Linked DNA regions of Homo sapiens: region 2 is linked to region 1. The links come from fine-mapping of genetic effects on gene expression. Tissue or cell type: whole blood. Region 1 holds a variant in brackets; the other region holds the start of a gene. All regions are shown on one strand. Distances are from middle to middle.

Region 1 (10,963 bases):
AAGTCATGTTTTGACAGACGTGAGAGGAAAGTTTAAAGAAAGTAGTGAAGTTTGGGACAGACAAATAGTGAGGTACACAAAAAGTGGGTATTCGCTGTAGTGTAGATGTATCCTTGAAATCAGCGACCACAAATTCATAGTACAGTCAGTCAGCACTGTCATGTAATTTTTCTTCAGTTGCATTCAGAAGCCTAATAGAGAAATGGAGGAGGTAGGTATTAGGGTTAATCCCAGGTTGGAATCCTGCAAAGTGGGCAGGTGAGAAGTATGAGGAGATAGCAAGGGAGTTGGGAGCATTGGCAAGAGTGATTAAAAGGATGATTCAGGGATCTAGGCTCAATAGAGAAGTGAAGCCAGAGGGGGCCTGATAAATTGAAAGACTGGACAAGTCAAGGAACTAGAGATCTTGATAAAGTGGAAGAATAAGGATAGTGAGATTAAAGACTGAGGTCGGGGTCTTAGAATTGAGGGCTTCAGAGGTATGCAAATTTAGGCTATGATCAGGTCTGGGGTGTGGCTCTGAAAATGGGCAGCTAAAATGAAGGGGAAACAGAGGTCCTAGAATTTAGGTGATCAGAGGGAAAAATAAGTAGCAGACCCAGCCAGCACTGGGATGGAGAAAATCATGGTCAGATTTATTTATTTATTCAACAAATATTTACCAAGTACCCACATCCCCGGAACTTTATTCTTTCTTTCTTTTTTTAAATACCATACAAGGATTCAGATTCCTTCTTGACCCTGGCTTACAAAGTATGGACAAGCCTTACAAATTGGCTGTGTATGGATTACTACTCTCTTCTTAGTGAATAGTAAGAGATAGCAGTATTAATGGCATGACACTGCAAGAGTCTGGGGAAGTTTTAAAGGTGCTTATTCTTTATGGGTGATTAGAAATCCATGTGTTTGGCCGGGTGTGGTGGCTCACACCTATAATCCCAACACTTTGGGAGGTTAAGGTGGGAGGATCACTTGAGCCCACACATCTCTACAAAAAAAGCTAAAAAATTAGCCAGGCCTGGTAGCATGCACCTGTAGTCCCAGCTTCTTGGGAGGCTGGGGCAGGAGGATTGTGTATAAACAGCTGCTTTATGAACATAGGAAGAATAAGGAACCCATAGTGATGACAGCATTCCGCATGGACACTGTGCTGTTTGTCTGGAACTAACCTTCCATCTGTGTTTTTGCCTCAGTAAAGAAGTGTGTCAGTGCTGCAGGAGACTCTGGTACTGACCACAGATGACCAACTTTTCTTATCTGTCCTAGGTTATCAAGGCTGCCTATAATCAAGTAAAAACAATAGCTCAAGGAAACCTTTCCAACACAGATGTCCAAGCTGCCAAGTAAGTCTCAGTATTAACTGTGTTTTATGTTTTTGTTATTTGAAAGTTGTATTCTTTTCAGATTATAACAATATTACAATCTATGCTCATAAGGACTGAGAAGTACAGAAAAGCGTAAAAAGGGAAACATACCCATATCCTACCACCTAAAGATATAATTGTTAACATTTTGGCCAGGCACAGTGGCTCACTAATCCCAGCACTTTGGGAGGCCAAGGCAGGTGGTTCATTTGAGACCAGGAGTTTGAGACCAGCTTGGGCAACATAGCAAGACCTCGTCTCCACCAAAATTAGAGAATAATTGTTAACATTTTTCTTAGTTTATTGATCATGCATTTTTAAACATAATTGTTAATATTGTATATATAGATGCTGCTTGACTTACACTGGGGTTACGTCCTGAGAAATGCGCATATCGAAAATGCATTTAATACCCTAATAACCCAGTCATCCAGCCAAACAAACATAAGTCAAACCATCATAAGTTAAGTTAGGGACCATCTGTATACTTTTTTATCTTATTTAAATAGCATCCTTATTATAGAAGTTTGAAAATTACAAATAAAAGACAAAAATGATCTCTGATTTCCCTAGCAATGATTCTGTTTCCATTGATTCAAATTACTAAAAATTTAAACAATATTCATTGGTGTGTCAAAATACACTTGTGCATTTTCTGCAGTTATAAAGATATCTTTGGGCTTAAAATATTTTTGTGTTTCGTATTACTTTCTTGGTGTAGATTCCCAACTAAGTTAAGAGTTATAAACATAACGAAAGACTCCATGTTAGAGTGTGTGTATGTGTGTATGTTTAAATAATACATTTGACTAGGCGCAGTTGCTCATACCTGTAATCCCAGGACTTTGGGAGGCTGGGGCAGGAGGATCACTTGAGGCCAGGAGTTCAACCAGCCTGGGTAATGTGGCAAGACACTGTCTTTACAAAAAGATATTTAAAACTAGCCAGGTGTGGTAGTGTGTGCCTGTAGCCTCAGCTACTCAGGAGGCTGAAGAGGGGGGATTGCTTGAGCCCACGAGTTTGAGGCTGCAGTGAACTAAGATCACGCCATTGCACACTAGCCTGGGCAACAGAGCAAGACCCTGTCTCTTAAAAAAAAAAAATGTATTTCTAAGTCACAAATCTAAAGAGATTGTACCAGTTTATAATCATACCACCAGTATATAAGAGTACCTATTCTACAATAGTTTCTTTCTTCATAACTAATTTATACCCAAAAAAGATCTGATTTTGTTTTGTTTTATAAGAAAGACTAAAATACTTGTCTGCTATTTGGCAATTTATAAATCCCCACTGTCCAGATTGAAAGTGCTATCAACACTCCTAATTCATTAGTAGTTCGAGGGTTTCTCTAAAAGAGACAGACTTGGGACAAAGTTGGAAATCAACCTGCATTTTCATACAGCCGCTTAAGACATTTAAGTTTGACTCCATCTACTTAGAACAATTCAAAATGTGAATCTTGCAACTCCAGTGGTCGTTATGATCATTTAGTATTGCCCACAGGGGAAGCAGAATTACAACCCAGGATGGAACAACCTTTTGGTCATTTCTGTTCCCATTAGTATTGTTAGTTTTGTTATGCTGAGCACACTACAAAGTTGCATCTCTTGTATAAGTACAACACAATTTATTAAATATTGTATACATAGAACCAAGAATCGATAGGATGCAGGGCTGCTTGATTGTACCAGAAACAAAACATGATGAGAATACATTGAAACACTGGATTTACTTAAGAAAAACCTAAGTTTTTCAAATCTAATTTATTTAAGAAAACGTATTTTCTTAATAAGTGTAACACAGTTCTTACAAGGTATGGTAATAAGCAGAAAGTAGAATTTTGAATATTAATGTCAAAGTATGTTTTCTGCCATTTTGATGGAGTTGATACTTTTTCTTGTAAGTTCTTCCTGTAGTGAAAGAGAGAAAGTGAGGTGTCATTGCCGAAAGGACACACTAATAACCTCTTGGTAGTTTATTGCAGGTAAAATCATTTTTTAATTAAGCTGACAACGTGGTAAAACTGCAGCATTAAATTGTAATTATGTTTAAATGGAAGTCTTTCTGTAGAGTGTTAAAGGATGATAAACGTTTGAGGTTCAAATAACTCGACTGTCTTATCAAACACCATGTCTATAAGTAATAAGTTTCTGGGAGAATTGTGAATTGGATTTTGTTTTATTTCAAGTGGATGCTTTTGTGCCCATATTTAAGCTGCCGTTGCTTACAAGACCTGTACTGCCCTTCCCCACCTGCCTTTTCCATCATACCCTATGCTCACAGACAAATCTCAGCAAGAGGCAGGAGTTGCTTCACTAATCAAAACCTTACATTAAAATAGTTTTACCTAGATCTAAGTTCTAGTCCCAAATCAAAAAGCAATCTGTGGAGTTTTCAGTATAATTTCGTACTGACAGCTTTCCAAATAGTAACGTAAACGGTTCACGTACTTGGTGAACTGAAGAAATAGAATGGAGGCCATTAGCACTGTAAGTTGTTAGTTTGCCTGTTTACCAAAAATATGTTGAGTTTCGGGGCACATACCTTAAAATTGCCCTGTTTCACTGTGTAAGAGGAACTGGCTTGACTACTTCACCCTTGGTGAAAACAAACAGGCCCTAAAAGAGGCAGCAACAGCTGAAGTGGATATCACAGAAATAAACAGACAGCAGAAGCTCTTCAGACACCCCCGAAACCTGCCAAAACTCACAGGTAATACAAGTGAAACGATAGCATAAGAAGAAAATAAACATGAGAATCTTCAAACTACAAGCATTGAACGGTATCCTCCATCCAAGAAGAGAACCCACTTCATACAAGGAAAAGGCAAAAGGAAAAGGTCAAGACTGTGACCTTTATAACACTGTGACCCCAGCTGTGGGCCAGGTGGAGTTGTCTGTGGTGACACCAAGTACAGGCCTGACACCCTGGTTTGACAGAAGGCTCTTCAAGATCCCTGGTCTTCACACTGTAGCAGCCAAAAGGTAGGTTTACAATATACACTGTCCCCAACTTGCCATGGATCAATTATAATTTTTCAACTTGACTATGGAGGAAAACCAT[C/T]GCAATTTCAGCTTCCAGTCATGGGTCACATAACGATGGGGATACATTCTGAGAAATGTGGTGTTAGGTGGTTTCATCACTGTGTGAACCTCAGTGTTCAGACAAATCTAGATGGTATAGCCTACTACACACATGGGCTCTATGGTATAGTCTATTGCTCTTAGGCTACAAACCTGTATAGCATGTACTATAGTACTGAATACTGTAGGCAGTTATAACACAAAGGTAAGTATTTGTGCATCTAAACATAGGAAAGGTACAGTAAAAATACAGCACAAAAGATAAAAAAATGGTATGCCATTTTTATGGCATAGCTCCTGCTTTCGAGTGAGTCAGTGAGTGAGTGGTGAGTAAATGGGAAGGGCTGGGACATTACTGTGCACTGCTGTAGATACTAAACACTGTAAACATAGGCTACGCTAAATTTATTTTTTTAAAATTGCACTACAACATTATGTTGTCAGTAAGTAATAGGAATCTTTCAGCTCCCTAATAATCTTAACGGGACCACCATCATATATGTGGTCCATCATTGACCAAAAACATCATTATGTAGTACATGACTATACCTTGAATTTCGATCTTTTCCTAGGCTAGTGATATGCAGTACATGAGATAATCAATGCTTCCTTACAAAATGGGCTTATGTTAGAAGACTTTTGCCCAGCTGCAGGCTATTGTAAGTGTTCTGAGCACATATGAGATAACCTGGGCCAAGCTATGATGTTCGATACGTTAGGTGTATTAAATGCACTTTTGACTGCCATCTCAGTGGATGACAGCCTTCTCACTGACAGCAGAGAGATCTTCCTCACTGTGCCAGTGGGCAGGAGAAAGAGCATGCTGCGACTGGCCAGTGACATGCAGAGGATCCAGATTGCACAACCGGATCCAGAGGCCTTGGGAAGCATTAGGGAGCTCTCCAGCTGTCTCACTCAAATCTGTAGCAGCATATGGACCCACAAATGGAGGCCAAAGTGGGCCCTCAATTGGACACTTTGGCAACCCTGAAGAGACTTCTTCCCTTCAGACTTACTGTTTTAGTATGTTCCAGAGAAGGGAGTGGCATTCTTCTTGGGGAATTCAGGAAGAGGGAGACACGCTGTTACTCTATCCATTAAATAAAGCTTTGATGTTCACAGCCCCCCGCCACCACTCAGAAAAAAAAAATAATTGCCTTGCTCTCTAAAACTGACTTCTGCCTTTTATTGGACAGGAACAAGCTGAAAGCTGGATACCTAATGTCAGTGGAGTCTTCTGAGTGTTTCCTGGAAGAAGTCGGGTCCCAGGCTCTAGTTGCTGGTTCTTACATGCCACCATCCACAGTCCTTCAGCAGATTGATTCAGTGGCTAATGCTGATATCATAAATGTAAGTAAATGAAAACTTAACGATTTAACAACAGAGAACTTAACCTTAATGATCCAATTTCAGAAGGATGCATAAGCGTCCTTGGGCAGTGTATTATTCTTATGTTTGGTGCTCATCTACTTAATGTGGAGGCAGGAGGGCTCATTCCCATAAGATCCGCAACAAGCTTCCCTGTCAGCTCGAGTATATGTATCTTCCTCCTTCAAATAAACTACCATTAGGTTAAACTGTGATGTCAGTAAGAGGGCTGCCATCCACTGAGATGGCAGTCAAAAGTGCATTTAATACACCTAACGTATCAAACGTTAGGTTAAACTAATGGTAGTTTATAAAATGGGCTTATGTTAGATGACTAGAAGTAAAGAAGAGTCAAATATTAGCAGTTTCATATGATCCAACCTAAATAGTGAAGTTTGCTATTTTTCCTCTTCAGTCCTAGCAATATTTCACCATCTAGCATCTTAAGATTTTCTTTACTCTTCTCAGCCTAGGACATTCTCTTGTTCTTGCTAATTTTTTTTTCACATATATTATTGTTCCCTACAATATTGAGCTGTTTTGAGGGCAAGGACTATGTCATGTACTTCTTTGTGTTCCCTGCTGTGCCTAACAAGCACATGACCTACAGAATTAATCCAAAGTAAGTGGGTTTTCCCCATTTTCTACATTAAACTTGCCAACTTGCTTTCTACTGTAGATGTCTCGGCCATCTTCTCACCAACAGGTCTACCTTGTATAGGGACAGTGGGGATAAGAAAAAATAAAAAACTAAGCTGGGTGCAGTGGCTCATTCCTGTAATCCCAGCACTTTGGAAGGCTGAGGTGGGCAGATTGCTTGAGCCCAGGAGTTCAATACCAGACTGGGCAATGTAGCAAAACCCCATCTCTACAAAAAAGTACAAAAATTAGCTAGGCTTGGTGGCATGCGCCTGTAGTCCCAGCTACTCAGGAGCTCATGGGGCTGAGGTGGGAAGGTGGCTTGAGCCTGGGAGGCAGAGGTTGCAGCGAGCCGAGATCATGCCACTGTACTCCAGGCTGGGCAACAGAGTGAGACCCTGTCTCAAATAAAAAAGAGACAAGGCTATTTTAAGATAGTAACCCTGACTTGATTTCACTTCGCCCCAATCGTCATTTCATACTCTTCTTTTTTTTTTTTTTGAGACGGAGTCTTGCTCTGTTGCCCAGGCTGGAGTGCAGTGGCGCGATCTCGGCTCAGTACAACCTCCGCCTCCCGGGTTCACGCCATTTTCCTGCCTCAGCCTTCCTAGTAACTGGGACTACAGGTGCCCACCACCACGGCCGGCTAATTTTTTGTATTTTTAGTAGAGACGGGGTTTTACCATGTTAGCCAGGATGGTCTCGATCTCCTGACCTCGTGATCCACCCGCCTCAGCCTTCCAAAGTGCTGGGATTACAGGTGTGAATCAACGCGCCCAGCCCATTTGGTACTCTTTTAAATGGCTGTCTTCATCTTATATCCTATCATTATGTGCGTCCCAACCCGACTGCTTCCACCACCACCTCTCCTTCATAGTAATAAGATAAGCTGGCCTGACAGAATATGGGGGCTGCTGCTCCACCTACACCTGACTCATGATACTACACTTAACCAGCCTTTGAACTTGGAAGTAGTGGCATAAAGAATCCTCTAGGGTATCAAGTTTTACTTTTAAGTTAACAATCAATGTATTTTTATTGACCCAGACTATTTGCCATTGTAATACCGAAACAGGAAAGTATATCCCTGCCTGAAGCCACACTACTCTATTTGACAGTGTCAGTGTTGTTTTCCTTATCTCTCTTTGAACAGCTACCCTCTTACCAGTGTTGCTCTTGCTTGGTTCATTACACATACAATGGGACTTTCAGAGAAACAGCTAAGCTTTTCCTCCCACACTGTCCCAAATTAAAGCACCAGCCATCTCCTAGTTAATTTTCACAACAGCTATTATAGTAATTGCTGGCTTAGAATGTCCTATCGAAGGCCAGGTTGGTGGCTCACGCCTGTAATCCCAGCACTTTGGGAGGTTAAGGTGAGTGGATCACTTGAGGCTAGGAGTTTGAGACCAGCCTGGCCAACATGGCGAAATCCCGTCTCTACTAAAAATACAAAAATTAGCTGGGCATAGTGATACATGCCTGTAATCCCAGCTCCTTGGGAGGGTGAGGCAGAGAATTGCTTGAACCTGGGAGGCGGAGGCTGCAGTGAGCCAAGATCGCAGCACTGCACTCCACACTGGGTGACAGAGCGAGACTCCACCTCAAAAAAAAAAAAAAAAAAAAGAATGTCCTATCCATAAATTCTTGAAATGACAAAATAAGTTCGCCTGCTTGATGATATATATTTTTATTTTTGTTAATTTTGTCTTTTGTTTGTTTCTTTAAAGGCGGCAAAGAAGTTTGTTTCTGGCCAGAAGTCAATGGCAGCAAGTGGAAATTTGGGACATACACCTTTTGTTGATGAGTTGTAATACTGATGCACACATTACAGGAGAGAGCTGAACGTTCTCTCAGCCCAGAGCAGCAAACACATGAAAGTCAGAAGTCTCTAATATATCATTTGTCTTTTTTCCAGTGAGGTAAAATAAGGCATAAATGCAGGTAATTATTCCCAGCTGACCTAAAGTCAATAAAACATTCTGTTTAAGTGTTTTTCTTACGTTTTTCTCAATGAGTTAATCAACAAGTATTTATTATGTGCTGATATCTTTGTTTTAGATGCTTTAAAGGAGACAGGAATATAATTATTGAGTATAGAAGCATCAGAAACTATTAAAATTAAGGCTAAGTGGCTATCGGGGTAAATAGTGCCAGATTACTATTGGTGGCGTTTAAGATGAAAGCAAGTTCAAAATTTGTCATTTTGGGTGTCAACAGCTAAATGGTCTGGTTTTTACCCCTGTTTTGCCTTTTTTGCAATAAAATTATTTCCAAAAAACATACATTTCCTATCAATCATATCCTATATTCCCATTCATTCATTTTTTTATGTCTGATTTATCTTCATTGACAGAGTTTTGTTTTTCTCTCATCTCCTGTCTCTCCCTTATCTGTTACTATCCTGTCTCTTCCAAATAATTAACTCTCAATTCAACATTTACAGTAAAAGAAGGGCTAAAAAGGGGAAAAAAAAAGAATTCTAATGTGAATAACTAGCCAAAGAATTATGTCTCTTAGTTATTTTAATTATAGTACTTGAAGTTTACCAAAAAAAAGAGAGAAACTAAATATTTAAAGAAAAATGTAGTGTTTACATAAAGTGACATTCTCTACTATGTTCAGACATTCTGATATTGGATTTCTCTACGGCATTTTCTAAAAGAAAGAAATTCTTCTCAAAAAGGAGGGTCTTATTCTGAAAATAAGATTTGTGAGGCCTGCAAGAACCCAAGGAAGTCTTTAGATAATCCTGTTGAAGAACATCTCTAAAGGCTTTATAACGCAGTCATAAGAGAAGAGAATTGGTGAGTCTACAGACAGTCCTTGATAAGTACAGCAAACTTGTGCCTGGTGAGGCACAAAACTTGGGTGTCTGCAAGATAAATGCTCATATGACCACAGATTTGCTAACCAACCTTTGATACCAGTTGGGCTTTACCCTCTTCAACTTGGGCACAATCTTCCAGCCAAAATGCATCTGAGGTAGAGGAGGTAGAGGAGGAAGAGCTTTCATTGTCTTGCTTCACCATTATCCAGTATGGAGAAGGGGCCCTCACTTCTTTCTTGTCGTCTCTGTGAATCATCACGTCACAATTAATGTCTTTTCCTACACTAATAGTATGGTTCTTCTTCTTATATCCATGCCAGTCTCTGGAGATGGATATTGGTCTCCTTGCAGGGTGATGCACAGTTGACCACGGATATCTATAATATTGAAGTCTTTTATCTAAATCTACATTTTCATTATCATCACTGCTTGTGAAAGATTCATCTTTTGCCAGCTCAATTTTCTTTGGTGTGCTGAAATGAAAAGAATAGTGAATAAAATAGATTCTTCATGTCTAAACATTTATGGTCCCCTAACAAGATGCCTTATAACTTGCTTTGACTCATAAAAGATACAATTTAGCTTTAGCATTACCTTTCTGTGTCATTGAAATGTTTCTCTTTTTTAAATCGTCTTGAAATCTTTTTCCATTTCTAAATGGAAATCAAATTCTGCCTTAAATTACTTCACCATACCTTAAAAAGTTTTGCACAGACTTATACTAGACTACTGACCAGAATATTAGGAGGTGTTAAAGGGTAGGTTAATTTCACTGCAGCTAAAGTGACGGATTCAACCTGGCCATCTCCTGAGAACTCTATTCTTGTGGCTCACGTGGCATTAACACAACATTACTGATTTCCAGAGGAGTCAGGAAGTCAGGAAATAGTGGGCCTTAAGGATCTTCAACATCCTAGTCATTAGTAAGTCTTAGAGTCTTTTTTTTAGAGAGGGTCTTGCTCTGTCACCCTTGCTGGAGTGCAGTGGTACAATCATAGCTCACTGCAACCTTGAATTCCTGGGCTCAAGTGACCCTCTGGCCTCTGCTTCCAAAGTAGTTGAGACTACAGGTGTGTATGCTGTATGCCACCGCACCTGGCTAATTTTTATTTATTTTTATTTATTTATTTATTTTTAAAACAGGATCTCCCTATGTTGCCCATGCCTGTCTCAAACTCCTGGCCTCAAGCAATCTTTACTTTGGCCTCCAAAGTGCTAGGATTACAGGCATGAGCCACTGTGCCCAGCCAGGTTTTTGTTGTTGTTGTTGTTGTTGTTTTTAACTTTCTCCAATTATTGACTTTCTTGATTGTTGAAACTAGGTGGTGCTTGCCTGCTAGCACCTCCAGGTCTCTGAACTTTCCTAATGCCTACAGTACCTGTGCTTGCTTTAACTTTCCAGAATGAATGCTCTGTCACCTGCTTTCCCTCATCCTGGTGCTATTGCCCAGCAGAACCAAAACTAGATCTTTGTGATTACAAATCTCTGGTACATTCTGCCCTGCTAAAAGGAAATAGGTTTCTTCCCTGCCAACCTGTTAAGACTTCTGGTGTTATCACTAATAACCTTGGCAGTCTGCCTGTTGTATTTGCTTCCAATAATTTGAATGGCTTTTCCAAAAGTTTATCTCTTCCAGTAATAAACAGTTGATAATGAGTAATTTTTACTGAGAGCC
Region 2 (10,963 bases), 28 kb before region 1:
CCAGGTTGGCAGGGTGGGGAAAGGCTTTGGTTCTGGTTCAGCCTTTATATGGACAAGATGTTGTACAGGTTTAACAGTGCAAATACCTCCATGGCGGCCATTCCCCCTGGAGTTCTTGATTAATGAGAAGACCATGTCATAATCTAGTACTCCTCCAAAATGAGTAGGCTGTGGAATTTCATTTCTAACTTCTTTATCCCCAAGATCATTAAAACTGAATTATGGAGCCTACTATTCCAATGTCCTACAATAGATCTGACAGCTATAATTTTGTAGCCCTTTAGAAAAAAAATATCTTGGTAGGACTCTTAAAAGTATGGCCTGGAAGACTGCAGGTTTGCCATCTTATCCATGGTTGTCTAGTGGGATAGATGACTTGGGTCTTTACTTAATGCAATTCTTGTAATTAGGTTAAGGTCAAGAATTGGTTATTGTCCTGAATTTGATGTCTTGCTAGAATATATGACTGCTCAGGAAATAATGATCATGTATGCCAGATTATGGGGAGTCCCTAAGCCCCAGATTCAACTGTATGTGAAGAAATGGTTGAATTCACTTGAACTGGAGCCTCATGCTGATGAGCTTATCAACACCTACAGGTGAGTCATTATGCTGCTGCACTTTTTGTTGATGCTGCTAATGTTGAGGTGCTTTCTTTTGTCCCTGCTGTTTGAAATGAAGCCCATAGCTCCACCTATGCTCCTTTTCCCACAATTACCTAATTACGAAACTGTCTAATGTTCTACTAGGTTTCAGATACGAGTAGTAAGGCAGATCAATGTAGCTTCACGTCGTCCTTTTGCAGAAATGGAACAATAAATCTTAGGTTTTTTTGAACTGTAGCTTCTGAACCTCAAAAGGGATCAATTAAGAGGGAGTTTAGGATTGCTAAAGCAGCTAGAATTTGAAGAGCAGGGTGATGATAAAGACGAAGCGGGGGCCCAGAAATTTGAATGGGGTTTGCTGTGAGTCATGAGCTGGCCTGTGCCATGTGCAAAGGGAGAGATGCTGTGAGGCCTATCAGAGAATGGCACCTGCTAGACTGAGAACTGAATGTGTTACCGGTGGACGATATCTGAGTTACTGGCGGTGAATCTGTGTACATCTGCAGCTACCTCAATTCTTGCCTCCTCAGAAGAAAGAAATCAACAGAGGGGCATAAGGCAGAAAAAGAGACCAAGGCAAGTTTCAGAGCAGGAGTGGAAGTTTATTTAAAAGGCTTTAGAACAGGATAAAAAAGGAAAGGAAAGTATGCTTGGAAGAGACCCAACCAGGCACTGAGGTCAAGCGCTCTGTTTAACAGTAATCTTTATAGGCTGGCCCCTTTCTCATGATTCTTCCCTTAGGGTGGGCTGCCCGCATGCCTGGTACCCCCCTCACCCGTTGGAGGTGAGCATGCGCAGCGTGTTTAAGAAGTTGTACCCATGCCCATCTGAGACTTTCTTCCCTATTCTGGTGGAGTAACCCTGGAAAGTCATACTCCGCCATTTTGTCTCTTAATGCACATGCCCAGGAAGTTGCTTCTCCCTGGTGTCTGCATTCAATTAACACTGTTAATTTAGTGCAACGGGTGTGGACTATCAGGAAATGGCCTCTCCAATTTATCTTTTTTTTTTTTTTTTTGAGGCAGAATTTCGCTCTTGTTGCCCAGGCTGGAGTGCAGTGGCGCGATCTCGGCTCACCCAAACCTCCGCCTCCTGGGTTCAAGTGATTCTCCTGCCTTAGCCTCCCGAGTAGCTGGGATTACAGGCACCCGCCACCATCCCTGGCTAATTTTGTATCTTTAGTAGAGATGGGGTTTCTCCATGTTGTTCAGGCTGGTCTCAAACTCCCGACCTCAGGTGATCCGCCCGCCTTGGCCTCCCAAAGTGTTGGGATTGCAGGTCTGAGCCACCGCGCCTGGCCCAATTTATCACTTAGAGAGGCAATGTGATAACTGCCAAATCATCACCCGACATTCCTGGTGGATGGGGGGAGAGCCCTCTCCTGTCCCGCTCATACCTGTCTAACTACCTGTAACAAAGGTAGACCCAGAGTTTACATAGTGCAGAAAATGTCGGAATTCTTACTGAGAGCCACAGTAGAGATACCTTACTGAGCACCCCTTACAGTTATAACTCCAGAAAAGCCATGCCTTAGAAGTAAAGATCATGTCCTAGAATAAGATCAAAAACCTAAATAGACCCACCCTAATAAAGAATAAAATAAAAGCCTGACAGAATCAAAGGGAGCACGCAAAATATACGAAAGCTGGGAAAAGACGTTTACTTCTGTGAACCAAAAGTATCTGAGACAGGTCTCAATCAATGTGGAAAGTTTCCATTGCCAAGGTTAAGGATAAGCGCCTGAGAGGTATGTCTATGCCTTTCTCCAAAGATGATTTCAAGGGCTTCAATATTTAAGGAGAAAGGATTGATATGGGTGAAAAGGAAGAAAATTTGAAATCTTAATTCCAGCTCTTTGGGAGGCCAGTCCAGTGGACTGCCTGAGGTCAGGAGTTTGAGACCAGCCTGAGCAACATGGCAAAACCCCATCTCTATCAAAAATACAAAAATTAGCCAGATGTGGTGGCATATGCCTGTGGTCCCAGCTACTCAGGAGACTGAAGTGGGAGGACTACTTGAGCCCAGGAAGTACTGGAAGCACTCAAGCGTGAGTGACAGATCAAGACCGTCTCAAAAAAAAAAAAAAAAAAAGAAAAAATTTAAAAATGTGTGGGTATACAAGAGACAAAGGGTTGCATCCCCTTGAGTCTTTGATCAGCCTTTCACTGAATATACAATTTACATGTGAGAGGATGGGCAGAGGAATACTCACTTATGTCATTGTCTGGCTCAGAGAATCTTCATTTTTTTTACATAATACAATGTAAACAATAGGGCAGAGGAAGCCATCAGATACACATTTGTTTAAGATGGACTTTGAGTTCTGTCCTTTGTCCTGCACCTGTGAAAATAAGCTATCAGGCCTGGTGCGGTGGCTCACACCTGTAATCCCAGCACTTTGGGAGGCCGAGGTGGGTGCATCACCTGAGGTCAGGAGTTCGAGACCAGCCTGGCCAACATAGTGAAACCCTGTCTCTACTAAAAATGCAAAATTAGCCAGGCATCATGGCACATGCCTGTAATCTCAGCTACTCAGGAGGCTGAGGTGGGAAAATCTGCTTGAAACCAGGAGGTGGAGGTTGTAGTGAGCTCAGATCATGCCATTCCACTCCAGCCTGGGCAACAAGAGTGAAACTCTCCAAAAAAAAAAAAAAAAAAAAAAAAAAGAGGGAGGAGGGAGGGAGGAAGGGAGGGAGAGAGAGAAACAGAGAAAGAGAGACAGAGAGAGAGAGAGAAAGGAAAGGAAGAAAAGGAAAGGAAGGAAGGAAGACAGCTATCAATTTACATTGCCAGGGTGAAATTCAACAAAACTGTTTTAGGGTAAAGATCCTCAGATCCACATGGAATTGCCCTGTGGGCAAATTGTAAGGTAAGTTATGTAGCTTTTTATCCTTATAGCTATCTTATTTAGGAATAAAACGGGAGGCAGGTTTGTCTGACATCATTCCCAGCTTGAATTTTCCCTTTGGCTTAGTGATTTGGAGGCCCTGAGATTTTTTTTCCTTTCACACTTCCTAACTCATTTTATCTATGACAGAAAAATGCATGAATGGGGGGAATGAAAGTGAAAGTTAAAGCCAGTATCACTCTGGAACATAAATGCACAAATCCTAAACAAATAAGTAGCAAATTAGGTCTAGCAATATATTAAAAGAATAAAACATCCAGACCAAGTTGGGTTTATAACAGGAATGAAAGGTTTATTTATAATTTGAATCAATCAATATAACTTAACACAGAATAAGACCAATCTGTTCACCTCAATACATGGAAAAAGTATATGTGACCAAAAACAATAATTATAGAATATTAGAAATTGATATGAACTTTTTTTTCCCCCCCGAGACAGAGTCTCGCTGTGTCGCCTAGGCTGGAGTACAATGGCAGTGATCTCGGCTCACTGCAACTTCCGCCTCCCAGGTTCAAGCAATTCTCCCTGCCTCAGCCTCCCGAGTATCTAAGATTTCAGTCAACTGCCACCATGCCCGGCTAATTTTTGTATTTTTTTTTCAGTAGAGACAGGGTTTTGCCACGTTGGCCAGGCTGGTCTTGAACTCCTGACCTCAGGTGATCCACCCACCTTGGCCTCCCATAGTGCTGGGATTACAGGCATGAGCCACTGTGCCTGGCCCAGGGAATATTTCATCAGAGATAATACCTGACAGGGTAGGATTCTGAAAGGAATGGGGAAGGAAATGCCAACATCGAAATTATGCATTGGGGAAGCCATGATTAATGCCTCTGGCCCTAAGATGGCAAGGTAATGTTGTTCCCAAGTATAAACCCACATCACCTTCCTCTGGTGTGTTTTACTCCTACTGTTGCCTGCTTTCTCTTTACATTCTCCCACCCCATACTCACCGCGAGCGCTCAGGCTAGGTAGTTAGGCTCCATAGAGTCAAATTGGACCCCACATTAACGAAACTAACAATTCGAGCTTTCCAGCAATGAACTCATCTGCTCTTCCATGTCTACTCTTTTCCTGTCTGCTGGTTTCCTCTCCCAGGGCTTTCAGTGTGTTCTACGCAGAAACCAGTTCAAGGACTGGGTTTTCTTCTGCAATAAAATGCTGGAGTTGTGGCAGAGACCTCCACAGTGAGAACAGCCACGGAGTTGGCTAGGAGGTGACATGATGTGGAAGTGGTGGATGTGTCCACAAGATGGCACTCCTAATTTGTAGCTTAATGCTTAATAGGACATTTTGCAATTGACAAACTTGGGATTTTATGATTTATGTAGCTGATATCATGAATTATGTTTCAAATCCTGCCACATTTTGAACAGAATTTATTTTTGCCCCTTTCTGATATTGGGTCATAACCTAAGAATGAGAGGACATTATAAGCAGGTGTGGGTGTGTGTGTGTGTGTGTGTGTGTGTGCACTTGAGTGTGGAGACTTTTGTGTTCCTCCTACCTGACCTGAACTGTTGAATGATGAAGTTACAATGATTGGACTCAGGGGTGCAGCTAGCTAACTTGGGAATTGGGGTTTTGAAGTACTGGAGACAGCTTTGTATGCCATGTTAATGAATTTGAATTTTATCCTGAAAAACGTGGCTGTCGTTGAAGAATTTTAAGCAGGCAGGTGGCTTGATCAGAGCACTGCTTCCCAGATTTCACTCAATGGTACCTGTATAACACATTCATGATTTTTGCTGTATCTCCGTATCATCAAGTTACTTAACGTTTTTACACCAACTTTTATTATTTTATAAATGTACTTAAAGAGGAAATTCACTACTAGCATTGCTTGCCATAATCAAAATAAATATATTATTAAAATGGAACAGTGCTAAATAAGGTGTACACATGGACATAGAGTGTGGAATGACAGACAATGGAGACTCCGAAAGGTGGAGGGGTGGGAGAGAGGTGAACGATGAGAAAGTACTTAATGGGTACCATGTACATTATTCGGGTGATGGGTACACTAAAAGCCCAGACTTCACCATTACTGCAATATATCCATATAACATAACTGTACTTGCGCCCCTTAAATTTATACAAATTTTTAAAAGGAAAAAATGGAAGTGTTCATCTATGTACCAACTTAAAATCATCTCACGCACCACTAGTGTTAAATCTACCACATGTGGGGAAACTGTGTGGTATGAATTGGGTTGAGGGCGTCCCCAGCAGGCACAGAAATTGGGTTGGTGCCAGGTTCTTAATGCCCAGATCTTAATTAGAGAGCCCAAGTCCGTTGTAGGCCTGGAGCAATTCAGACACAAGGCAAAAAGAAAGTACATTTGCCTATGCCTTGTAACGTCTACACCACCAGCCTTTCTGAAACTATTGTGCATACGAAGTCATCCCAGGATCTTGTAAAAACACCGATTCGGATCCAATATGGGACCTGGAGTTCATACATTTCTAATCAACTCCTAAATGATATTGATGCTGATACTGTCGGTTTCCCAACCAAGCAACGTAGCAAGGTACGAAACTCTAAAGTCCCTAAAGGGCAGGGACCACGCCTCTCGCGTTGGCATAGTGCCTAGCTCAAGGCACTTTCTGGGTTAACACTCGCTGAGGACCGGAGTGAACGCCCCCGCCCCAAGTCGTCACGTGACTGACTTTCTCCAACTGCCGGTTTCGGCTCACATAACACACCTACTATCCAAAACATTTCTATTTTCCTAACACAAAAACTATAGCTAAGTTTTTATATTCTATGTAGCCCCAGCCTAGGACGTAAATTCCACGAGACCAAAAGCCTTGTGATGATTCCCCGAGGTTGCTGACCCTCCCGGTGTGTCCCGGGCCTGCTCTGGGGGACACAGCGGCGAATACGTTGAACGAGGCCCCTGTTTCACGGAGCTAAAGATCCAGTAAGGACTTCACCCAGCGAGAGGCAACTACGCCGGGCTTCGATACCCAATACCTCTGCAGAAAGGTGGAGTGGCAGGAATCTCCTGAAGCCTCCAACGTCCAGGAACGCGGAAACCCAGGGCCTCCAGTGCAGGTGTCATCCCGGAGGGCGCATGCGGAGTCCCAAGAGAGGCGCGTCCCATTGGACAATGCTGAGCGGAAGAGCCCAAGATAGCGGGGGGAGTTGTGACAGGCTGCTGCAGACGTACTTAGAAAAGGGGTGCATACTGGATATTCAGGCTAGGAGAAGAACGCAAAAAGCAGTGACGTACATTATTCTCTGCATATATTTACTTGGGAAATTGTGCGTCTCCCTATTCTGAGTCTTGGAGGAATTGGACTGGTCCAACCTTATAAAGAGAGCAGTAGAGCGCGGCAGTATAGAGAGTACCTCACGAAGGGGACGTGGGAAAGTGTTAGCGGGGAACGCTGGGAAACTCCCGGCCTCCGCCACCATCTTGCTTTCCTTTAATCCGGCAGTGACCGTGTGTCAGAACAATCTTGAATCATGAAGCTACTAACCAGAGCCGGCTCTTTCTCGGTGAGCTCAGGTGGCGGGTTTGGGAAAGGGCTGGGGAGCAGTGTGTCGACAAGGTGATACGAGGCGGAGGTGTCTGGTCTGGGGTCTGGGCCTTGGGATTCGGTCTGCCCTTCAGCTGAACCCTGCGGGCCAAGTGGGCTGCAGACTGGGTCAGGCTTTGGAGGCCCAGCTCATGCTGTGAGCACAAGAGACCTAACACCGGGAAACCTGAAGAGAGGGGCAGGACGTGAGAGCGGAGTTGAAGCGAGTCCTTGGAGAGACTTCTGAAGGTCACTCCGGTACTCAAGTGCTGGAGAAAGAGACCGTGAAACCCAGGGGGAGCGGGAGGACGGCGCACTTAGCCCCCCACCTTCACTTTATCCGCTGCAGCCTCTGCTCCTTGGTTTATCACGGAGCGTCAGTTTCCCCAGCGAATAAAAGTATAAGAAAGGAGCTAATGCAGATAGAACACTTATTACAGTACCTGGAACTTCATTGTTAAATACTATGGTGTCTTAGTAGTCTAACGTTGCTTTTCTTGATCGTATGTTAGACGGTTCCTCCAAGACGTCTCTGTTTGTCCTCAAAAGCTCCTTAATTAAGTTTCCCCTTCAAGCCTAAATTAAACATAGCTGTCACTTGGGGAAAACTCACACATCAGGGTTATATCACTGTGGGACAGTGGTTATTAAGAGGGGTAAGGGGGAACACTTAAAAAATCATAGCGAGGGACAGAATGCCCCCAGGGAACCGGTGGCGATGTTTGGAGACATATTTAGTTGCAACAACTTGTAAGGAGGGTGCTATTGGCATGGAGAGGCCAGGGATGCTGCTAAACTTCGCCTTACAGCAAAGAATTATCTAGCCCCAAGTGCCAGTAGTAGTACCTGTGTTGAGAAACCCCCCTAGATGGAGATGCAGAAGACCAGACCTGGGCATGGAATGTTCTTATGCTTTATGTTTACATAAATGTGCTGTGGGCTATATCGATTTAGGCTGTAATTGCATTAACCTTCCAGGTATACCTAGACACACCAGTGATTACCCTTGGAGGGAAGCACGGTTAGATTGGCAAAAGACCCCAACATTTCCTTCTCCATTCTATTTTGCAACAGAAAAAGCTCAGAGAAAACAGTTGGAGAGGCCCAAAGTAAACAAATTGCAGTAAACTTGAAAGCAATTATTTATGTGTCTAATTTTAGCACTTTATATAGGAGAATAAACTTAGATATATCTTGTTATTAGAACAAAATAATTTAGAAGATTGCATGACAGTTACTAGGATAATTTGCTGATTTGAATGGGACGATTAAGAAGCACATTACCGGCGGAGCGCGATGGCTCACACCTGTAATCCTAGCACTTTGGGAGTCAGAGGCAGGCGGATCACTTGAGATGAGGAGTTCGAAACCAGTCTGGCCATCATGGTGAAACCCCGTCTCTACTAAAAATACAAAAAAAAAAAAAATAGCCGGGCGTGGTGGTGGTGGGCGCCTCTAATCCCAGCTACTCAGGAGGCTGAGGCAGGAGAATCTCTTGAACCCAGGAGGCGGAGGTTGCAGTGAGCCGAGATCGCACCGCTGCACTCCAGCCTAGACGACAGAGCGAGACTCCGTCTCAAAAAAAAAAAAAAAAAAAAATTACCAACAAAGAGTTACTATTTGGGCACATTTGGTTGGAAAACACCTAAAATCTCACTTGGTAACGGAATTATAGATTATTCATATTTGAATTGCTATGCCCATATATCTTAAAAGTTTACTTTTTGGAAAATTATAGGCCAAAATTACAAAGAAGGTTAACTATACCATACCCAGCAAACTAAATTGATGACGATAAAGTAAAGCTAATTGTAATTCATAACTGAAAAGCAGTACTAAAAGCAAGTGATAACCAGCAGCCAACCTAGTACAGCACTAATGATGTACAACAAACAGCCTTCTGGACAGCACAGAGTGGAGGCATTGCAGACTGTGCAGGGATGTCCGGGAAACTCCAGTGAGGAGGTGTTCATTGGGTCTTGGGAGCACCAAATTTTATTCACTCATCATCTCCTCTAATAACCTCATGAACTTTAGTCATAATCAGAATGATTTGTATGGCATTGTATAACATTTGCCAAAACAAACTGAATAAAATGAATGCATTTTGGGTCCATTATCTAATATTTAATGGGACCCTTTCACCCTACCAGTAACTGCATTTTATATATTGAGAATCTGATGTGGATGAAGCCATTATTAATCTCAGGATGACATACATGTCATAAATGTTTTATTTAGTCAAAAAAACTAAGACCTTTGGTTGTGTGGTCTTAATACAGCACACAAGAGTGAAGATACAATGGAAAATATTGAGGGCTTGGAGGAAGTTGGTATATACTTTGTCTTTTTCTTTTTTTTTTCTTGAGACGGAGTTTTGCTCTTGTTGCCCAGGCTAGACTGCAATGGCACAATCTCGGCTCACTGCAACCTCCGCCTCCCGGATTCAAGTGATTCTCCTGCCTCAGCCTCCCCAGTAGCTGGGATTACAGGCATGCATCACCACGCCCCGCTTATTTTGTGTTTTTATTAGAGATGGGGTTTCTCCATGTTTGTCAGGCTAGTCTCGAGCTCCTGACCTCAGGTGATCCGCCCACCTTGGCCTCCCAAAGTGCTGGGATTACAGGCGTGAGCCACCGCACCCGGCTAGTTTGTCTTTTTTAAAGGTTACTAAGATGATTAAGGAGATGAAACCATTTCAATTGGAAATTAGACTGAACGGATGACATTCATTGGGCAGATAAAAGAAGCAAGAAGCTGAAACCTATAAAAGGTTGTGGACACAGGCCAGGTGTGGTGGCTCCCACCTGTAATTCTAGCACTTTGTGAGGCCGAGGCGGGTGGATTGCCTGAGCTCAGGAGTTTGAGACCAGCCTGAGCTATGGGGTGAAACGCCATCTCTACTAAAATACAAAAAATTAGCCAGGCGTGGCAGCATGTACCTGTAATCCCAGCTACTTGGGAGGCTGAGACAGGAGAATCGCTTGAATCCAGGAGGCAGACATTGCAATGACCCGAGATCGCACTGTTGCACTCCAGCGTGGGACACAGAGCACGACTCCAACTCAACAAAAAAGGTTGTGGATGGGGTGATCTGACACTTTTTCAAAAAATGCCAAAGCTTTAGAACTACACAGAACCATGAAACTTTTATAAGGTAACTGAAAGATAAGAAAATACAGTGATTCTTTACATCATTTAAAAAATAAGCATCAAGAACTCTATAAATCACTAATAAATAGAGGTTTAAGAATGGCTTGGGTAAACTGGTGGGTTAGTAAGTCCATAATAAGTTATGCAGCTAGGCGGGGTGCAGTGGCTCACGCCTGTAATTCCAACACTTTGGGAGACCAAGGTGGGCAGATCACTTAAGATCAGGAGTTCAAGACCAGCTTGGCCAACACAGTGAAACCCCATCTCTACTAAAAAATACAAAACAAAAACTAGCTGGACATGGTGGCACGCACCTGTAATTCCAGCTATTTGGGAGGCTAAGGCAGGAGAATGGCTTGAACCCAGGAGGTAGAGGTTGCAGTGAGCTGAGATTGCGCCACTGCACTCCAGCCTGAGCGACAGAGAGACACTCTGTCTCAAAAAAAAAAAAAAAATGTTATGCAGGTAAATCCTCCCATGGAGGTGGTTATTGCTCCTTCCACCCCCGAACACCCTCTGTCGCTTGGGTACCCTAAGATACCATGCTTTTATATAAAGCACTGTTCTTGTGAGAAATACGTGTAACCTGTGTTTTTTATGTTTAGAGATTTTATTCCCTCAAAGTTGCCCCCAAAGTTAAAGCCACAGCTGCGCCTGCAGGAGCACCGCCACAACCTCAGGACCTTGAGGTTAGTCCCACTAACTTGCTCGCTGGAAGCTATACATGCCTTACTCTCCTTGGTAATACGAAGACATTCATTATATCTCTACT

What was found. PIP is the estimated chance that this variant, and not a neighbour inherited with it, causes the effect.
Region 2: it holds the start of UQCRC2, and the variant in region 1 is fine-mapped to the expression of UQCRC2 in whole blood (TOPMed, PIP above 0.99).

The regions. Positions count from the first base shown.
Region 1 is chr16:21,974,901-21,985,863 of GRCh38, forward strand. UQCRC2 (ubiquinol-cytochrome c reductase core protein 2) reads left to right here. Exons shown (of 14, transcript NM_003366.4): 12 at 1,267-1,343; 13 at 5,647-5,800; 14 at 8,188-8,760. The coding sequence ends at 8,271. It overlaps PDZD9 (PDZ domain containing 9), which reads right to left. Exons shown (of 4, transcript NM_001363519.1): 4 at 8,965-9,760. The coding sequence ends at 9,367. It also overlaps the pseudogene LOC100420644. Among named protein-coding and RNA genes, the nearest start is that of PDZD9, 21 kb to the right of the region's middle. The variant C/T (reference allele first, on the strand shown) is at 4,431.
Region 2 is chr16:21,946,439-21,957,401 of GRCh38, forward strand. UQCRC2 (ubiquinol-cytochrome c reductase core protein 2) reads left to right here and starts at 6,923. Exons shown (of 14, transcript NM_003366.4): 1 at 6,923-7,018; 2 at 10,797-10,880. The coding sequence starts at 6,986. RefSeq lists enhancers at 6,256-6,715, 6,804-7,521, 7,036-7,205, 7,216-7,265.